Homo sapiens: one gene and its partners. The protein of the gene in region 3 interacts with the protein of the main gene of each other region in a pairwise test. Each region holds a gene or a part of one and is shown on either strand. Other genes may lie near its edges.

Region 1 (6,623 bases), on a different chromosome or scaffold from region 3:
TTGTCGGTGAAGAAACGCGTCGGGTCAGCAATCTCGCTGAGCAGCATCAGCTCCGCCATCTTTCCCCCCCACCCCCCAACCAGGAGACGGTTCCCAAGGCCCGCCTCTCCCCATCACCAACTAATCAGTTGACTCTTTCAAAAAAGGGGGCGTCCCGGAAGCTCTACCGACCAGTAAGAGACCTGGGTGCTGAGCACGTGAATCAACAGATGCGGATGACTGTGTAGGCGGGCCCAATGGGAGCACAGCAGCAGGAAGTAACTTCCAGACAGTGCCATACCGCCAAGCGCATGCGCCAAACAGGCTCCAGTGATAAAGCGCCTGGGAGATGTAGTACCCAGTATTAAGGTCCACCATCTCCCCCAGCCACTACTAAGTTTAGTTTAGACAGCTTCTATGTGTCCTCGGAGATAGATAAGCCCCTCAAAAGGGGCGCACTGTGACCACTGCTACCTCCCCTAGGAAGCCAAAAGCTGAGAATGGGATATGGGCTGAAACCTTCCCTCTGGCCCCCCACCCCCAAATCTCACAGCACAGACCACAATTCACAAGTTCCTGTCTCTTTTAAGGTTTAACTTTTAATCAGCCAAACATCTTGCGCAGACCCTGAGCCAGCCCTGCATCCTGGTTCTTCCCCTGAATGACCACCTTCCCCAGTTCCTCCTGGGCTGCCCGGTTTTTGGGATCTATCGCCAGCACCTTCTTGAGGTCAGCAGTTGCTTTTTCCAGGTTCCCAAGGGCAGCCTGGGCAACCCCCCTTCGGTATAAGGCCTTTAAATGGCCAGGCTCCCGCTCCAACACCCGGTCACAGCTCTGGGCTGCCAACTGAGGCTGCCCTAGCAACAACTGACAGGCAGCCAGATTGGCATGAAGGACAGTTCGTTCTGGAGGGCCAGGTGGGGGTAAAGTCAGGAGCAGCCGAAGAGCCCGTCCATAGCATCGGGCAGCTCCTTCAGGGTTCCCAGCTCGAAATAGTTCTGTGCCCCTTGCACGTTCTTCCCTGGCCAGGGCTTCCTTCTCGCTAGTCTCCAGCTCCCAGGAGTCTCGGCCTTGAGTGAAGGATGCCAGTGTGAGCCTGACAGGAGGTCCAGAGTGCCCAGGCAGCTGAAGCTCTGCTTCCTCACCTTGACACATGGACTCCAAGCATTTCTCTATGAGCTCCCCCCAAGTTTCCTCCCTCCATGGCCCTACGCCCATAGTTAGCTCTGTCCAGCCCTCTGGCGGCCCTGATCCGAAAGGAAACCCCAAAGCCAGTACCCGGCAGCAGGAGCCTAGTTTGGGTTTGTCCAAGCCATGGCCACGGATTACGATCTTCTTGACAAAGCTCCCATCGGGGCAGTACCAGAGATCAGAAGCTTGAAGGGCCTCTGGCATCTGACTGGTTGATCCATGAGACTTATGAGAGTCTCCTTCAAGTTCAGCAACCAGTTTTTCAGCTCCTTGAGTATGCTCTAGAATTTGGCTGGCTGGATCTGGGCTTACTTCCAGCTCAAGCGTTTCGGTAGGAGGGTCTCGGGGCTGCTGCCTAATCTGAATAACTGAATCAAGGTTCTCCCGAAGGTTCTTTTCCCACTCTTGTTGCGGCTGAGAGGTGTCCTTTTCTCCAATTGTATTGACTGGTGGCGTCTCCATATGGATGCTTAGTCCCTTCCACGGTGAGTGAACAGTTTTGGTCAGAAAGGGATGAACCAGGTTCAGGTCAGCACCTGAAAAGAAAACCAAACAATGCTAATAGCAGGGTTCTTATTTAGACTCCTTTCTCGTCCTTTCCCATTCTTCTGAGACCCAGGCCCCTAGTCCTGAAAGTCCCCAGTTTTGCTTTCCTCCAAAAATCTGCTCCAGCTTCCCCGTTCCACCCACATATAATTTAGAACTATAAATTCCACAATTCCCTGCGGTTAAGGTAGCCGCGCCAACTACGGACACCCGGTCGGGTCAATAAGTACCTGCGCGGCCAAAGTGCCTAGCATGGTGACAGGAGGAGCCGGGCCATTCGAATCACCTCTCCTTCCAAAGCTAAATGGCTACTGAATGCTGCCCTCGGAGCCTTGCCCCACGCGGAGAGGGCAGCCGGAGAGGGGCGCGGTGCGGGAGGCGGGGGTAGGGGGCGGAACAACTGGGAAAGATACTGACAACTAACCCTGGAGCCCGCGAGACTCCGAATCTAGTCAAATTCCTGGCAGCCAATCGGGAGAAGGGAGGAATCTGGTTAGCCCGCCTATTGAACGTGACATCATTTCCTCCGCAACCATGAAGCTCCAGGCCTTAGCAACTGAACTAGGCCAGAGCAACCGAACTAGGCAGAATCGAACAGAATTTGGCGCGGTCGGGCTGGCCAGGCTGCTCAAGAGTCAAAGTGGGCCAACATGGTGAGACCCTGTCTCTACTAAAAATACAAAAATTAGTAGGTCATGGTGGCGCGCGCCTGTAATCCCAACTACTCGGAAGGCTGAAACAGGAGAATCGCTTGAACCCGGGAGACAGACGTTGCAGTGAGCCGAGATCACACCATTGCACTCCAGCCTGGGCGACAGAGCGAGACTAGAGACTCCGTCTCAAACAAAAAAAAAAAAAAAAAAAAAAAAAAAAGGTGGGCCGGGCGCGGTGGCTCACGCCTGTAATCCCAGCACTTTGGGAGGTTGAGGTCAGGAGTTCAAGACCAGCCTGGCCAACATGGTGAAACCCCGTCTCTACTAAAAATGCAAAAATAGCTCGGCGTGATGGCGGGCGCCTATATCCCAGCTACCCAGGAGGCTGAGGCAGGAGAATGGCTTACCTGGGAAGCGGAGGTTGCAGTGAGCCGAGATCGCGCCATTGCACTCCAGCTTTGGCAACTGAGACTCTGGGAGGCTGAGGTGGGCGGATCACGAGGTCAGGTGATCGAGACCATCCTGGCAACATGGTGAAATCTCGTCTCTACTAAAAATACAAAAAGTTAGCTGGGCATGGTGGCGTGTGCCTGTAATCCCAGCTACTTGGGAGGCTGAGGTGGGAGAATCGCTTGAACCAGGGAGTCGGAGGTTGCAGTGAGCCGAGATGGTGCCACTGCAATCCAGCCTGGCGACAGAGCAAGATTCCCGCCTCAAAAATAAATAAATAAATAAATAAAAAGCCGGGCATCGCGCACGCCTGTAATCCCAGCAATTTGGGAGGCCGAGGCGGCGGGGGGGGGCGGGGCGGGGGGAGGGGGCGGGGCGGCGGGGGGATCACTTGAGGTCAGGGGTTCGAGACCAGCCTGGACAACATGGTGAAACCCCGTCTCTACTAAAAATACAAAAAATTAGCTGGGCGTGGTGGCGGGCACCTATAGTCCCAGCTACCCGGGAGGCTGAGGCAGGAGAATGGCATGAACCCGGAAGGCGGAGCTTGCGGTGAGCCAAGATCGTGCCACTGCGCTCCAGCCTGGGCGACAGCGCAAGACTCCGTCTCAAACAAACAAACAAACAAACAAAAAGTCAAAGTGTAGAGAAGTCCTGGAATGGAGACTGGGGGCGGATGACAATAGAGTGGAGAATGGCAGAGGTCGTGGTAAATGATAGTGGCAGCAGCCTTTTATCTGGAGACTTCAGGCCCTCCTATGCTAACTATCTTTATGTTCAGAGCTCATTCAGTACAGGGTGTTCTCCAGGATAAAACCTCGGGACTCTCTCTCCAACCGGCCCTGTCCCTTGGGTGACTACCTGAGGCTTCTCTTTACCTTTCCTTTCACATCCATCATTGCCTTTCAAGTCCTCCTTCATCAAGAAATCTTAGTGCTTTTCAAACATAAGTGTGCATACATATCACCTAGGGAACTTGTTAAGTTGCAGATTATGATTTAGGAAGTCTGTTGTGGGGCCTGTGATTCTGCATTTCAATAAGCTGGTTAATGCAGATGCTGCTGGTTCATAAACCGTATGTTTTTCTTTTTTTTTTTTTTTTTTTAGAGAGATGGGGTCTGCTGTGTTTACCAGGCTGGTCTCAAACTCCTGGCCTCAAGCCATCATCCCATCTCAGCCTCCCAAAGTGCTGGGATTATAGGTGTGAGCCACCACACCCAGCAATGAACCAATGGGATGAGATTCTAGAACAGTCTCATCCCATTGTCTTCTCCCCTGGCTCTGTGCCCCTTTAGTTTATCCTACATTTTACATGTATAACTGGTGTGACCTGCTCCACTGGATGTTGCAGGTTCTCCTCCTAATAGAAGATGTAGAGACCTATTGTGATTCAGTCTTGCTTGTCCAGCTACCTACACAGCCTGGGCTACCACAGTTCTCCAGGAAAGAAGGATCCCTCTCTTGAGTACCTCACTTTGGCTCCCTCTTAAGTTTGCTCTCACCATTGTGCCTCAGACTATAAAAACCATGCCAGGACAGCCAGGAAGGGAGACGGTTTCATCATTAGCCAAAGACTTGTGTCAAAACAATTCTCTCCCTGGTTTTGTTTGTTTGTTTTTGTTTTTTTGTTTTTTGTTTTTTTTGAGACGGAGTATCACTCTGTCACGCAGGCTGGAGTGCACTGGCGAGATCTCGGCTCATTACAACCTCTGCCTCCCAGGTTCAAGCGATTATCCTGCCTCAGCCTCCCAAGTAGCGGGGATGACAGGCACCTGCCACCATGCCTGGCTAATTTTTGTATTTTTAGTGAAGATGGGGTTTCACCATGTCAGCCAGGCTGGTCTCAAACTCCCGACCAGAAGTGATCTGCCCACCTCGGCTTCCCAAAGTGTTGGGATTACAGGCGTGAGCCACGGCGCCAAGGCAGGCGGATCACTTTAGGTCAGGAGTTTGAGACCAGCCTGGCCAACATGGTGAAACCCCGTCTCTACTAAAAATACAAAAATTAGCTGGTGTGGCGCATGCCTGTAGTCCCAGCTACTCAGGAGACTGAGGCAGGAGAATCGCTTGAACCTGGGAGGCGGAGGTTGCAGTGAGCTGAGATCGCGCCACTGCACGGAGGCCGAGGCGAGCGGATCACAAGGTCAATATGGTGAAACTCCGTCTCTATTAAAAATTCAAAAATTAGCCTGGCGTGGTGGCACACGCCTATAGTCCCAGCTACTTGGGAGGCTGAGACAGAAGAATCGCTTGAACCCAGGAGGCGGAGGTTGCAGTGAGCCAAGATCACACCATTGCACTCCAGCCTGGGCGACACAGCAAGACTCTGTCTCAAAAAATAAATAAATAAATAAACACAAATACAAATATAGGCATTGAAACCCCTAAAAAAAACCTAATCCAAATCATCATGTATGAAAATATTTCTCTTTTTAAAAATATGGCCCATCAAGAGGTAAGCACAAACTTAAAGTTTTAGAAGAGTTCCCCAGAGAAGATAGCCATGGACCTGTAGATTCCCCCTAGTCTTAACTTGAGAAACACAGGACTAGGAAGGGACCAACAACCTGTGAAGATTCAGAAATAGGAAAGAGTGGCCAGGCGCAGTGGCTCATGCCTGTCATCCCAGCACTTTGGGAGGCCAAGGTGGGTGGATCACTCGAGGTCAGGAGTTTGAGACCAGTCGGGCCAACATGGTGAAACCCCGTCTTTACTAAAAATACAAAAATTAGGCTGGTGTGGAGGTGTGTGCCTGTAGTCTCAGCTACTTAGGAGGCTGAGGCAGGAGAATCGCTTGAACCCGGGAGGCAGAGGTTGCAGTGAGCCGAGATCACACCACTGCACTTCAGCCTGGCGACAAAGTCGCCTTATCCAATTTCCTTTCCTTTCCTGAGGTAGAAAGGAATTTGAGAAATTCTGTCTCAAAATAATAATTTGTAAAAAAAGAAATAAGAAAGAGTATAGGCTCTCCCCCAAAGTGTAGATACTACATGCTTGTTGACTGACTCACACTATCTCCCTCAAGTCTAATTGTGCCAGAGCTCAGCTCTTTGGAGGCAGTCATCAAGGAATCAAGACGAAAGAGAGCCACAAACCAGGAAGATTATATCCTTAAGCCTGGCTAGAGAACAAGACATTTGAGAAAGATACATAAAGAGGATGACAAGTGAAATTTGCTTATCTGTTGGGATAGATGCTTGGACTGGAAAGTGGGGAAACAGCAATGTCTCTCTCCTCTCCCTTTCCCCTAAAGATTTGAGAATGAAATGGAAGATGAGCAGGCATGAGAGGAAGAGATGAAAAGGAATCTTCTTCCCCAAGGGACTGGATCCAGTCTCTTCTTGTCACTACAAATTGTCCTCTGCTCCCTCTCTTCCTTTGGTGTTGCAGGGACCAACATCACCAATACCTCCAGAAATCGTGTGAATGCAAATGGGACATACTTACCCCGTCTTGCTACACAGAAACCTCTCGAAAAGTGAGACTCTGGGTTAAGAAGGTCAAAGAGGGCCAGGTGCAGTGGCTCACGCCTGTAATCCCAGCACTTTGGGAGGCCAAGGTGGGCAGATCACATGAGGTCAGGAGTTCGAGACCAGCCTGGTCAACATTGTAAAACCCCATCTCTACTAATAAAATATAAAAATTAGCCAGGTGTGGTAGCGGGCGCCTGTAATCCCAGCTACTTGGGAGGCTGAGGCAGGAGAATCGCTTGAACCTGGGAGGCAGAGGTTGCAGTGAGCCAGGATCACACCATTGCACTCCAACCTGGGCAATAGTGTGAAACTCCGTCTCAAAAAAAAAAAA
Region 2 (4,026 bases), on a different chromosome or scaffold from region 3:
TTTGTTTGTTTGTTTGTTTTTTTTTGAGATGGAGTCTCACTCTGTCACCCAGGCTGGAGTGCAGTGGCGCCATCTCAGCTCACTGCAAGCTCCACCTCCCAGGTTCACGACATTCTCCTGCCTCAGCCTCCTGAGTAGCTGGGACTACAGGTGCCCGCCACCGCGCCCGGCTAATTGTGTGTGTGTGTGTGTGTGTGTGTGTGTGTGTGTTTAGTAGAGATGGGGTTTCACCGTGTTACCCATGATAGTCTCGATCTCCTAACCTCGTGATCCACCCGCCTCGGCCTCCCAAAGTGCTGGGATTACAGGCGTGAGCCACCGTGCCCGGCAAGGGCTTTGTTCATTAGGATCAACAAAGTGCTTTGTCTAATTCCTGCAAAATGGCAAAGACCCAGCCCATTTCCATTACTCATTCCAGGCTCATGCTCAGGAAAACTAATAACGTTCTCTTTGACAAAACAATTTCCTTAATTTTCTAGGATGAATCTTGAACATGTTTAGCTCAGCCTTTCAGATATTTATTCTTTAAATTACCATCCTGTCAAAATTGCCTTTACGCACTGATCCAGAATCACCAAGGCAGTTGCCACGATGCCTCCCAGGACTGTGGGTGACTGGGCAAACTGGTAATGACCCGTTGGCTCTGCTTCACACACACACATACACATTGACACACATAAATGTACACATGCATATATGTGTGTACAACACAACTATAAAACATAGAAACATATACCTGTACATATGCACATGCTTACATACACACATATCACAGATGTGCATGCACACATACACATGCACACCACCTTTTACAATATGCCTGACACATTTGAGGCACATTAAAATGCCTTGGCAGGCCCAGCCCTATAGTTCTGTAAGGTTTGGCAGGCCAAAGGCTTCGGATGTCTGCAGGATACCATTGAAAAAATGTTATCTTCCCCTTCTATATGTTTCTTATGCACGAGCACAGCTAAGAGCAGCCAAATAGTAAGCTTTAAAGAAAAGAAACCTGGAAAAGTGAATGTGCCTTGCAATTTAAAAATTGCTAACAGTTTCACAGTGGGAAAATTGCATTTGTTGGAATTTTCCAAGTCATAAGCAAGAAGAATAGCATAGACCCAAAACGACAGAGATCTCTTCCAAGGTATGGAATTGTGGAAATTTATTTAGAATATTTGCTTGGTGATCCAGAGAAGGGGGAAAGAAGTGGTGAGGAAGAATATATGGGGTGATCCCTCCAAATTGCCAACTCCTCGTCTTAGGAAGAAGTGGGCAGTTTCCATTGATCCCTAGCATCAGTTTGACGGGAAAACCGGTGCATTTCATCAACCTCAAGGAAAGGAAGTGCCATGCATGGAGGCCTGGTGATAGGCAACATCCATTTAGAAGAACAGTCACACAAGCAACAGAAGAACTATCCAAGACTAGAAGCTTAGAAGCTTATACCAAACTCTCTGTCTCTCTCTCTCTCTCTCACACACACACACACAGAGTGGATGGGAGGGGACATTAAGAGGAACCCTAGTGCAGTTCCCCCAAAAAACCTTGGCATAGAGTATAACAGGGAAAAAGTAATTACTGGGAAGCTGAAAACAATCAAATATGTGAGGAATGACTGAATATGAGCTGAGGATAATGTAAATTGTTCTGGATTGTCTATAAGATAAAGATACAGAGCCTGAATCTATGTTTTTCTGAATAAAGAGACCCCATATTCTCTTTTGAATTATTGACCTATAATTCCTCTTCAGCAGCTTTGAATACACTCAAGTTCTCTTCCTATTGTTTATGATCCCATAATACAACCACCCACTATTTGTTGTGGTTTACAATCCAGCTTAGAACCCTTGAGCAAAATTATTGAATTATTGAATGCTAGGCCCAAACAAAAGAAATTTCAGCTTGGTTTTAGTAATTTCTTGATCAAACTTCTCTCATTCCTCTAAATGTACAAAGGTTTCAAAGTTGTAAAAAATATGTCTACATAGCCAATGCTCTTAGTATTTTTAACAGCAAAGATAATCTCTGCCAATAATTATTAATGACAAAATAGTGATAACTGTTCAATGTTGCTTTAACAGTCCAATTGTAGTAGGTGAGAAAACAAAAAAGAAGAGAAGCTATGTTGAATATTTAGTAATGTTGGAAAAGATCCTCACCCTAGACATAAAATAGTTTAAACATTTAAACATGGCCCCTCTCTTATTGTCATTGCTAGTGAAAGAAGTTCCTGAAATTGCATATTACATTGTAAAGTTTTGGGCTAAATCACAATACATTTTTAAGTTGCTTCCATGGCAATAGATCGTAAGACCACAGCTTGTCAAAGTAACCACTAATTCAGTATTCAGAAACCTTATCATCTGTTCCTCCAAAAAGACCCCATAGTTAATGTTGTGTTTCCCAGTATTTTAGTTGGGTTTCTTCACACTTAGGCAAGTGGGTGATTCTGGTCATAATAAACTATTTTCAAACTAGGAAAAAGTATCCAAATGCTAGAGCACATAATGAGTTCAGCTTGGTCAGTTTTGAGACAGATAAGCATAAAACCCTACTAGAAAAAAATAATAGTCAAACCTAAAGCTTTAAAAAATGTGAGTCACATCACTTTTCTCCAGGAAAGGCAGAACGTGCTCAGGGTGGAATTTAATCAAAAATGTACCCAGAACAATTTCCCACAAAGAGCTGTAATACTTTGCAGCAAGGGGCATTAATAAACTCTAATTTTTACCGAAAGTCAAGAGACACACAGATCTTTTTTGGTACCCTCTACATCATCATAGCAAGGCCCTTCTGAACATTAACAAGCCTAGATGTTTCTACTGCTTATTTGCAGTATCTACAGGGGAATGGTTCGTGGATATAAACAGAAATGTTTTATCTGAAGAGGCTGTGTATGCCACCCCAGACCCCTGCATTTCTTAATATCTATAAAAATATGACTAAACTTGTTACATTTGAGGCAAATATGTACAGTATTTTTCCCTTTTAAAGATAGTTTAAAAAATCAAGGTAATAAAAAACGGCCAACTCTTTCAGGAAAAAAAAAATCCGGTATTTTGTACTACTTGAGTTTCTCTAATGCCTAAAATATGCATTTAAATCATCCCACACCTACACAGAAACAAAATCAGCAGGGAAAACCATCCCACTGATGATTGGCAATTCCACCGTTCCTCTCCATCTGACCAGCTTTCACCAGAGGGCGATCTTTCATGCTTGCACATCGAGTTTATACAATGTAGAAGCCCCCAAGTCACCTGGGAAATGGCTCATGCCAAATACATGGAGTCCTTAGTTGACTATCTTTTCATATTAAAATCCCATCTTCCAATGAAGCATCCTGTTTTCAATACTGATATCAAATTTCGAATGTAAAGGAGATTTCAAATGTATTGCTTTCACCTTTTCTTTTTTATTCATTTATTTTTAATTGACATAAAAATTGTATATATTTATGGGATACAATGTGATGTTTTGATATATGTATGCATTGTGGAATGATTAAATCAAGCTAATTAACATATCTATCATCTCACATATTTCTCTTTTTGCTTTCACTTTTTCGGGTTTATTTCTAATCCTCTACTAAGCACACAACAAAGAGTCAAATGTCGGTGGGCCAGGGGAATATCTCCAGTTTGATTTTTTTGGGGGGGGGGGACAGAGTCTCACTCTGTCACCCAGGCTGGGGTGCAATGGCGTGATCTTGGCTCACTGCAACCTCTGTCTCCTGGGTTCAAGCGATTCTCCTGCCTCAGCCTCCCAAGCAGCTGGATTTACAGATGTGCACCACGCCCAGCTAATTTTGTATTGTTAGTAGAGACGGGGTTTCACCATGTTGACCAGGCTGGTTTTGAACTCCTGACCTCAAGTGATTCACCCGCCTCGGTCTCCCAAAGTGCTGGGATTACAGGTATGAGCCACCGCGCCTGGCCTTTTCTTTCTTTTTTATGTCCAGGTATTTCATTTCTCTTTAAGAGTAATTAGTATGGGTTCTTCAGTGTTGTTTATGTTTTGTTTTGT
Region 3 (7,053 bases):
CCTTAAACCCCCAAATAATACCTAGCATGACACTTTGCAGCTTAATATGTGCTTTCATGTACATTGTCTCATTTGGTCCTCACAATCAAGAGATAGGTATGATGGCCATAACAGTAAAGGCAGGTCTTCTGGCTTGAACCCAGTGCTTTTCCTACTGTCACACTTCCCTCTGTAATTTTTTTTTTTACCCGATTTTTTTCAGCAGCCCAAAGAAGCAATCTGCTTGGGTCTTTTTCCATTTTTTTTTCTTGCAATCGATACCACTCTTCATTTTTGTCATCTTGCTCCTCATCTTCATCAGAATTGCCTACCCAAAGACTTTGAGTACCAGTAGGAATAAGGTGTCCATGTGTTTCCAACAATTCAAGTTGGTTAAAGTGTTCAGAAAAATCCAAGGAATTCTCTTGGTCTGGTATTCCATCATCATTTCCTTTTTCTTTTTCCATTTTTTACTACTATTCTAAATAAAAAGCATTTCAAATGCCAGGATATAAATCTTTCTAGAGATGAATTATGACTGCTTTGTTCATCAAGATCTGAAAACACAAATACAAAAGTTATTAGTAAAACAATAATTCAGGCTTTATCAACTGCATAGATAAGTCTTGCAAACATATACAATTAAACCCTGTCTAAACTCTTGTTTTTCTCATGATATCCCTTACATACACTAAATACTGATGCTGACAGAAAACAACAAACTATGATCTAATAGTGGTCTAATGCTTCTTACTTTTGTTGTTTTCTTCTAAGTCAATTATATTATTATAACTATTATTTTTAATCTACTGGTTTAGGTATGATGGTGTTATGCTAACAGTGATGAATGCTTAAAGGTTTTGAAGTATAACTAATACAATGAAGACAGGTGCATTCAAGATTTTTATAAACTAGACACACAGATAATATAGAGCAGAAATAAAAACTTCTAATTCCTAAAAATACTATTTCGAAGAATCAGGGATTCTTGAAGATGGAATAGCCCCCAAAAGGACATCTGTTCCAATCTGTCATCGGTACATATATCTTTATCACAGCATCTACACTAATTATCCTATTTCTACTTTGATAATTTCAGGCCTAGGAAAATTCACTGCTTTAAAAAGTAGTCCTGTTTATTGATAGGCAACTATAGTTCTTAGTTGGGTCCTTGTTTTCAACTGAATTTTGGCTGTCATTCATTCCTTCATTCAACTAATATGAATAGAATGTCTGGTATGTGCCAACTTCTGGGTACTGGGATTCAATAATGAGCAAGATCCATGTCTTCACCTCAGGAAGCTTACTCTAGTGTAGGTGACTGGCAAAGACATCATGTGTCTGGCAAAGACAACATGATAAGTACTACTACAAGACCTTGTCTAGAAACCATGAGTATACAGGAGGTTCATAATTCCCCTAGTCCTAAGGGATTAAAGAAGGCTTCCTGAAGGAACTGATGTTTATTCTGCTAAGCTGCCATATTAATTTTTAAACCAATATCAGCTTAAAGGGTTACACAACATATAAACCTTAATCAATTAAAGAAAAGGAGAATAACCAATAGATAATTTACAAATACGAATTCCCAGCCTCTCAACTCTATTTGTTGAAATATAATCAGTCTTTCAAGGCTCTTCTCTGATGTTATCTCTTTCATTCTTTCTTGATCCTCTCATTTAGATCGCTTTCTGCTTTCTACTTTTTTTGGTGCTACATTTCACCTCTAACTTTGTTCTTGTTTTAGCCCCTTAAAAGATTATAAGCTGAAAGATAAGGACCACATTTAACTTATATTTATCTCCTACTTGTCTATAGAAGGCATTAAGAAGTATGTGTAGCATTACATTTAATTAAAGTCTTGTCACTTGATTTTGCCTGGAATGGATTCTGAGAAGTTCCAGAGTTAGGCATAACCCCAAGATACTGATTTCTTGATACCTAATCTCACAAGTTTAACAGTATACAATCTTAATGTGGTATTAAACTTTATTACTAGTGGCAATAGCACTAAACTCAAGTTTAAATGTATTACTCATGTCCAGTAACTTTTCTGGTCCTGTTACTTTATTGTAAAATGTAAGAATTTTACTAAAGTATTCCTAAGGCCAATCCGGCTTTTCAGTCACCCAATCAGAGACACCCTTGGAATCAGAGATATCCAATCAGAATTGCTCTGTGTTTTATTAATTCTCCTGGAGCTTCCACTTTTTCTTTGATTCTCAAACTAATTCCTGAACCTTGCAACACAAAAATGACCATACATCAATTCATTAAACACTTAACAGATGCTAATAAATAAAAGTTCACTTGTAATTATATCAAATATAGTAACCTTATACCACAGATCTTACCCTCTCCCCCAACATGCTTTTCCTTTCAATAAAAACTCCCTTTATATAAATTTTGAGTTTACAGATCCAGATACAAAAAATTATGTACAAAATTTTACTGGTATATTTAGTTTAAAAAGCCAAGCCTAGGCGCATCTACCCGACTTACAGTTAAGAAACAAAACTGATGACTTGATGATGATATTCCTGATATTCCATCAGGAATGTCAGGGTATGTTTCCTAACTTAAAGGGCATATCCTATTTTGAGAGAGATCCGAACTATGTCAACTCCTTACAAACAACTCAGTGATAGGCGGGGCTATAAACCTTACTGGTGAAGGAGGTTCAGATAGATTAAAACAACTTGCCCTAGATCAAGGACCCTTCAATGGAACTGAAAGGGCAGACGTTCTAATTCAAAAGTTCTACATTATTTTTCGCTGCACTATACATCTTACTGCTCTCAGCACAAAGCAGTGCAGATGTGCTGAACTCAAGGACCTAGGGGCGACACCTGTAGAGGGTCTGGCGACTGGGAGGGAGGGAGAGGGGATCCAGCTCCGGCACTCTGCCACCAGCCGGGAGCTCACAGGCCCGTGAGCTCCGCCTGCGGCCTTCCAAACAGCCAAGAGCGGAGAAGCGGCTTCGGTCCTACCTGGGGACCACGAAGCGGCCTGACCTGCAGGGCTCGGCCTGTGTCCACAGGCTACCCACCCCCACGGGCTCAGGAGTTCTTAGATGGCGCCGGTCCATCAAAAAGCGAGGTCCGGGACAGGGAATAACAACCCACCTGACAGAAGGGAAAATCGCCGCCTTGCATCTCACTTCCGGGTTCGTCTCCTAGCCTGCTCAGGATTGGCTCCTGCGTGAGGGCGGGGCCTCGCCGCTACTTTCCCCGCCCCCTCACTGCGTGCGGTAGCCAATGAGAGCCGAACTGGACTTGAAGCATCTACGTTATCCATGAAGTGTCGCGAGAGAAACGGACGCCGTTCTCTCCCGCGGAATTCAGGTTTACGGCCCTGCGGGTTCTCAGAGGCAAGTTCAGACCGTGTTGTTTTCTTTTCACGGATCCTGCCCTTTCTTCCCGAAAAGAAGACAGCCTTGGGTCGCGATTGTGGGGCTTCGAAGAGTCCAGCAGTGGGGTAATTTAGGAATCGCATTCGTCTCCTGTTTCTGCAGGTTCCCAGGCGGAAGCCCAGAGTTAACTGGAACCTCGGGAAGAGCGGGCCGAGTGGGCAGGGGAGGGGTCCTGGCGGGCTCAGCGTTCTGATTCCGAGGTTCCCTGCGGTGAGGGCGTGTTGAGGCTTGGAATCCCGACGGAATCTGGAGCTCCAGATGTGGTGGGGGTTGTCTCGCGGTGGCAGCCACTCTTCCCCAAACCTGGCTATTTTCAGTCATCCTGCTGGTGCTTAAAGGTGTTCCTCCGCAGACCACGTGTTTGTTTATTTACACTCGCTTTAAACGCGGGCCCGTTCCCTTTTCCAAACTAGCCAGGTCCTTTAAAAAAAATCGTGGGGTTTGAATAGGAAATACAGGATTGCCTCTGTTCTCCAGAGTAACCTATGCGTGCAACTTAAAAATATCTGCACATCTAGAGTTGTTTGTGTGTTGAACCAGAACCGTATGTGACCCTTTCTGCCCATTTATTTAGCATACATTAATTTCCCATAAGAGCACGGGAAAGGAAAATAGGAGTTTAATCATCTTGGTGAAACTAGGAAACAGGATGTACACTGGAGATATATTATTTTCTATGCTCAGTTCATTAAAAAAAAGTATAGTGGGTGCTTAGATGAAAATGAGACTTCTAAATTTGCCAGTCTAATTAAGACGTCTGTACCTTGTGCAGCGTAAATCATGTTGGTTAAATACGTGCAGGCTTTTAAAAAATGTGTTTTATGATGTAATTTTGTTTTTAGAATTTCTAGAATTTGGAATCGAGTGCATTTTCTGACATTTGAGTACAGTACCCAGGGGTTCTTGGAGAAGAACCTGGTCCCAGAGGAGCTTGACTGACCATAAAAATGAGTACTGCAGATGCACTGTAAGCACCTGACTTCTGGAATCCCTTGTTATTTGGGGTTTCTAAAGCTCGTCAACTGTGATCACAGTAAAAGAAAACTTATTTAATAAGCAGTAAATAAGGAACCTGTTTATGAACAGAAATATTAGTCATCAAAAAGGGTATTTGGAATGTTTTAAATATTTATCTGTTTGTTAACTGGAAGCTAATATGCAGCTATAGATTGGAGTCTTGCAGTAATTTGATATATTGATATAGTATTGTTTATGTTCTTAGGCTTCATCTTAAATTATTGAAGTGATAAATATTCTTGAATTTTCCTGACAAATTCTTATTAGTCAATGCAGTTCTGTTTAAGATTTTTAGAGTAAATTCCTCTAGTATTAAATAAGCTGGAAATGAATTTGAATGGAATGGGAATAAATAAAAGGACTGTAAAAGTTATGTGCACTTTGGGAGGCCGAGGCTAGCGGGATCATCTGAGGTCAGGATTTGGAGACCAGCCTGACCAACATGGTGAAACCCCGTCTCTACTAAAAATACAAAATTAGCCAGGCGTGGTGGCGCATGCCTGTAATCCCAGCTACTCAGGAGGCTGAGGCAGGAGTATCATTTGAACCCGAGAGGCGGAGGTTGCAGTGAGCCGAGATCGTAAAAAAAAAAAGTTATGTGGGAAAGACTTTAGACTTGGAGTCTTTTACCCTAGTTTCAAGTCCTTGGACCCTACTAGCTGTGTGACCTTGGGCAAGTCAGCAGTTCTCTGAGCCTTGCCTCAATTTTGCCATTGGTATAATTGGAATAATTATACCTTTTTCAGATTAATTTTGAGGCTTAAATGAGAGAATTCATGAGAAAATACTTCATAAATTGCTACAGAAACATGTAGTATTATGATTTGAAAAGTATCTGACCTACCTTCTTGGATATATCAGTGAGAACTGTGTGCATATCATTTTTGAAGTTTTTGAAGAGAAATCGTTTGTGGAAATATCTTTTGTTTGTAAAGATTTGAATTTTGGAGATATATACAGAGATTTTTTAAAAATTCATTGTGGTTTATTGAAAATAGCCTGAGTTTTCATCATGGGTTTTAGTCCTGTTTCTGTCACTAGTTATGTGATAAAGCAGTTAATTTCTCTGGGTTTAGCCTTCTCATTTGTCAGAGATAATAATGCCTGACTCTTTATCTGTGAGGGTTGAGATGAGATCATAAAAATAAAAGTATTTCATACAATTAAATTTAGTGTAAGAGTATTAATAACTATTACATTGCTACTTCACATTAAAGTACCTTTGAATATTACCAAATTCAAATTGAAACAATTCTGTGTTGGCCAACTTTATTAATGAAATCTAACTCTGTAGAGAGTAGAGTCATGCAAGTGTCTTCAAGGCCCTGAATGTAAATTATTGCATATTAGTATAAAATTGACTCATAAACTTAGAGGAAGGCTTTTTAAATTAACTTCGATTTTCCTGGAAGAGTACGAAGTCAGATAAATAACAAGTTTATTTATCTGAGGAAAACAAGCAAACTTTTGGGCCTGGGTTACATGAGTTTGTAAAACTGGTTATAACAAGGTTATAAATTTTTGAAGCAGTTATAGAACCTTGTAAAGATTTATGTACATTTGTTCTGTATTGAACTAGTGGTTAGGAAAACTGTAATGTTAATGATAACGTTGAATACTTCAGATTTTCAGATGAACTCTAAGGCTAAAAAAAATGATTTTACTCTATAACTGTTATTATTTATTTTATAAGTTTGTCTCAATTTGTTTGAATATCCTTTAATGAATTATTAATATATTGAAATGTTTCTTCTTTCTTAATATAGTGATGATGAAAACACATTTAAAATATTAGTTGCAACAGATATTCATCTTGGATTTATGGAGAAAGATGCAGTCAGAGGAAATGATACGTTTGTAACACTCGATGAAATTTTAAGACTTGCCCAGGAAAATGAAGTGAGTGTGGTTTGTATTTGTGCACTATCTACCATATTCCCTTGGTTAACAAGTTATTTTTCCTTCTAAAGTTAGAGATTTGTTTTATAAGCTCAGGTGCTTACCTTGCCTGCTTGAATATCAATATACTGAAAGCTCAAAGCTGATTTTGTATGCTTTGTGTCTTAAATTCAAGTAGGAGCTACTTTTGTAAATAGTCTGTTAAAATTTACAAATGTTTTTGGGGTGTTTACTGAATGCAGGATCCTGTGGCAGTGTCTATTCGAAATGTAAGGTGACTGTCAAAGCTTCTGCTTTCAGATAACGTAGAAGAAAACTGGTGTGAAAGACAAATATCCACAATCCACAGATGCAAGGTTGTATGTGATAGGAGCCCTAAGAAAATTCTAAATAACATTTCCTTTGAGTTTAGAGGCAGAAAAAATCACGTTTAGATTATAGCAAGATGAGTTTAATGAAGAAGGTTGTGTTTAACTTGGGCTTTGGAGGAAGGGTAGACTTTTGGCCAGTGGGGAGCATAGAGAATGTACATCCATGTGAAGCAGGAGTGAGGAAACCCGTGAGACAGTATAAGGTATGTTAGGGGCCCTGTAGTCAATTTGGCTCACCAGCAGGTCATAGTTAGCAAGCATGCTGAGAGACTAGAAGGAAGGATTTGAGCTGCATTAATGAGGACTTCAAATATCAGATTGAGAAATTTGTATCCAGTTCAAGAGAAAGTCTTTTGGCAGCGGAGTATAATACCA

The links.
Region 1: the proteins of ANKRD49 (region 3) and FKBPL interact in binary tests that used the Homo sapiens proteins (3 or more experiments, as listed by UniProt).
Region 2: the proteins of ANKRD49 (region 3) and PTCHD1 interact in a two-hybrid assay, tested with the Homo sapiens proteins (one study listed by BioGRID and IntAct).

The regions. Positions count from the first base shown.
Region 1 is NC_000006.12:32,128,149-32,134,771, forward strand, and holds FKBPL (FK506-binding protein-like), read right to left. Parts: upstream 2,141-6,623; 5' UTR 1,947-2,140; intron 1,707-1,946; 5' UTR 1,633-1,706; coding exon 583-1,632; 3' UTR 559-582; downstream 1-558. Other genes in the region: ATF6B (cyclic AMP-dependent transcription factor ATF-6 beta), read right to left, coding at 1-59. UniProt on the Homo sapiens protein: May be involved in response to X-ray. Regulates p21 protein stability by binding to Hsp90 and p21.
Region 2 is NC_000023.11:23,400,849-23,404,874, forward strand, and holds the end of PTCHD1 (patched domain-containing protein 1), read left to right. Parts: 3' UTR 1-3,526; downstream 3,527-4,026. UniProt on the Homo sapiens protein: Required for the development and function of the thalamic reticular nucleus (TRN), a part of the thalamus that is critical for thalamocortical transmission, generation of sleep rhythms, sensorimotor processing and attention. Can bind cholesterol in vitro.
Region 3 is NC_000011.10:94,490,087-94,497,139, reverse strand, and holds the start of ANKRD49 (ankyrin repeat domain-containing protein 49), read right to left. Parts: upstream 3,157-7,053; 5' UTR 3,105-3,156; exon of another isoform or gene 2,970-3,104; intron 537-2,969; 5' UTR 447-536; coding exon 189-446; intron 1-188. Other genes in the region: double-strand break repair protein MRE11, read left to right, coding at 4,339-4,358, 6,175-6,307. UniProt on the Homo sapiens protein: Induces HBG1 expression. May have a role in spermatogenesis where it promotes autophagy in response to serum starvation, via the NF-kappaB pathway.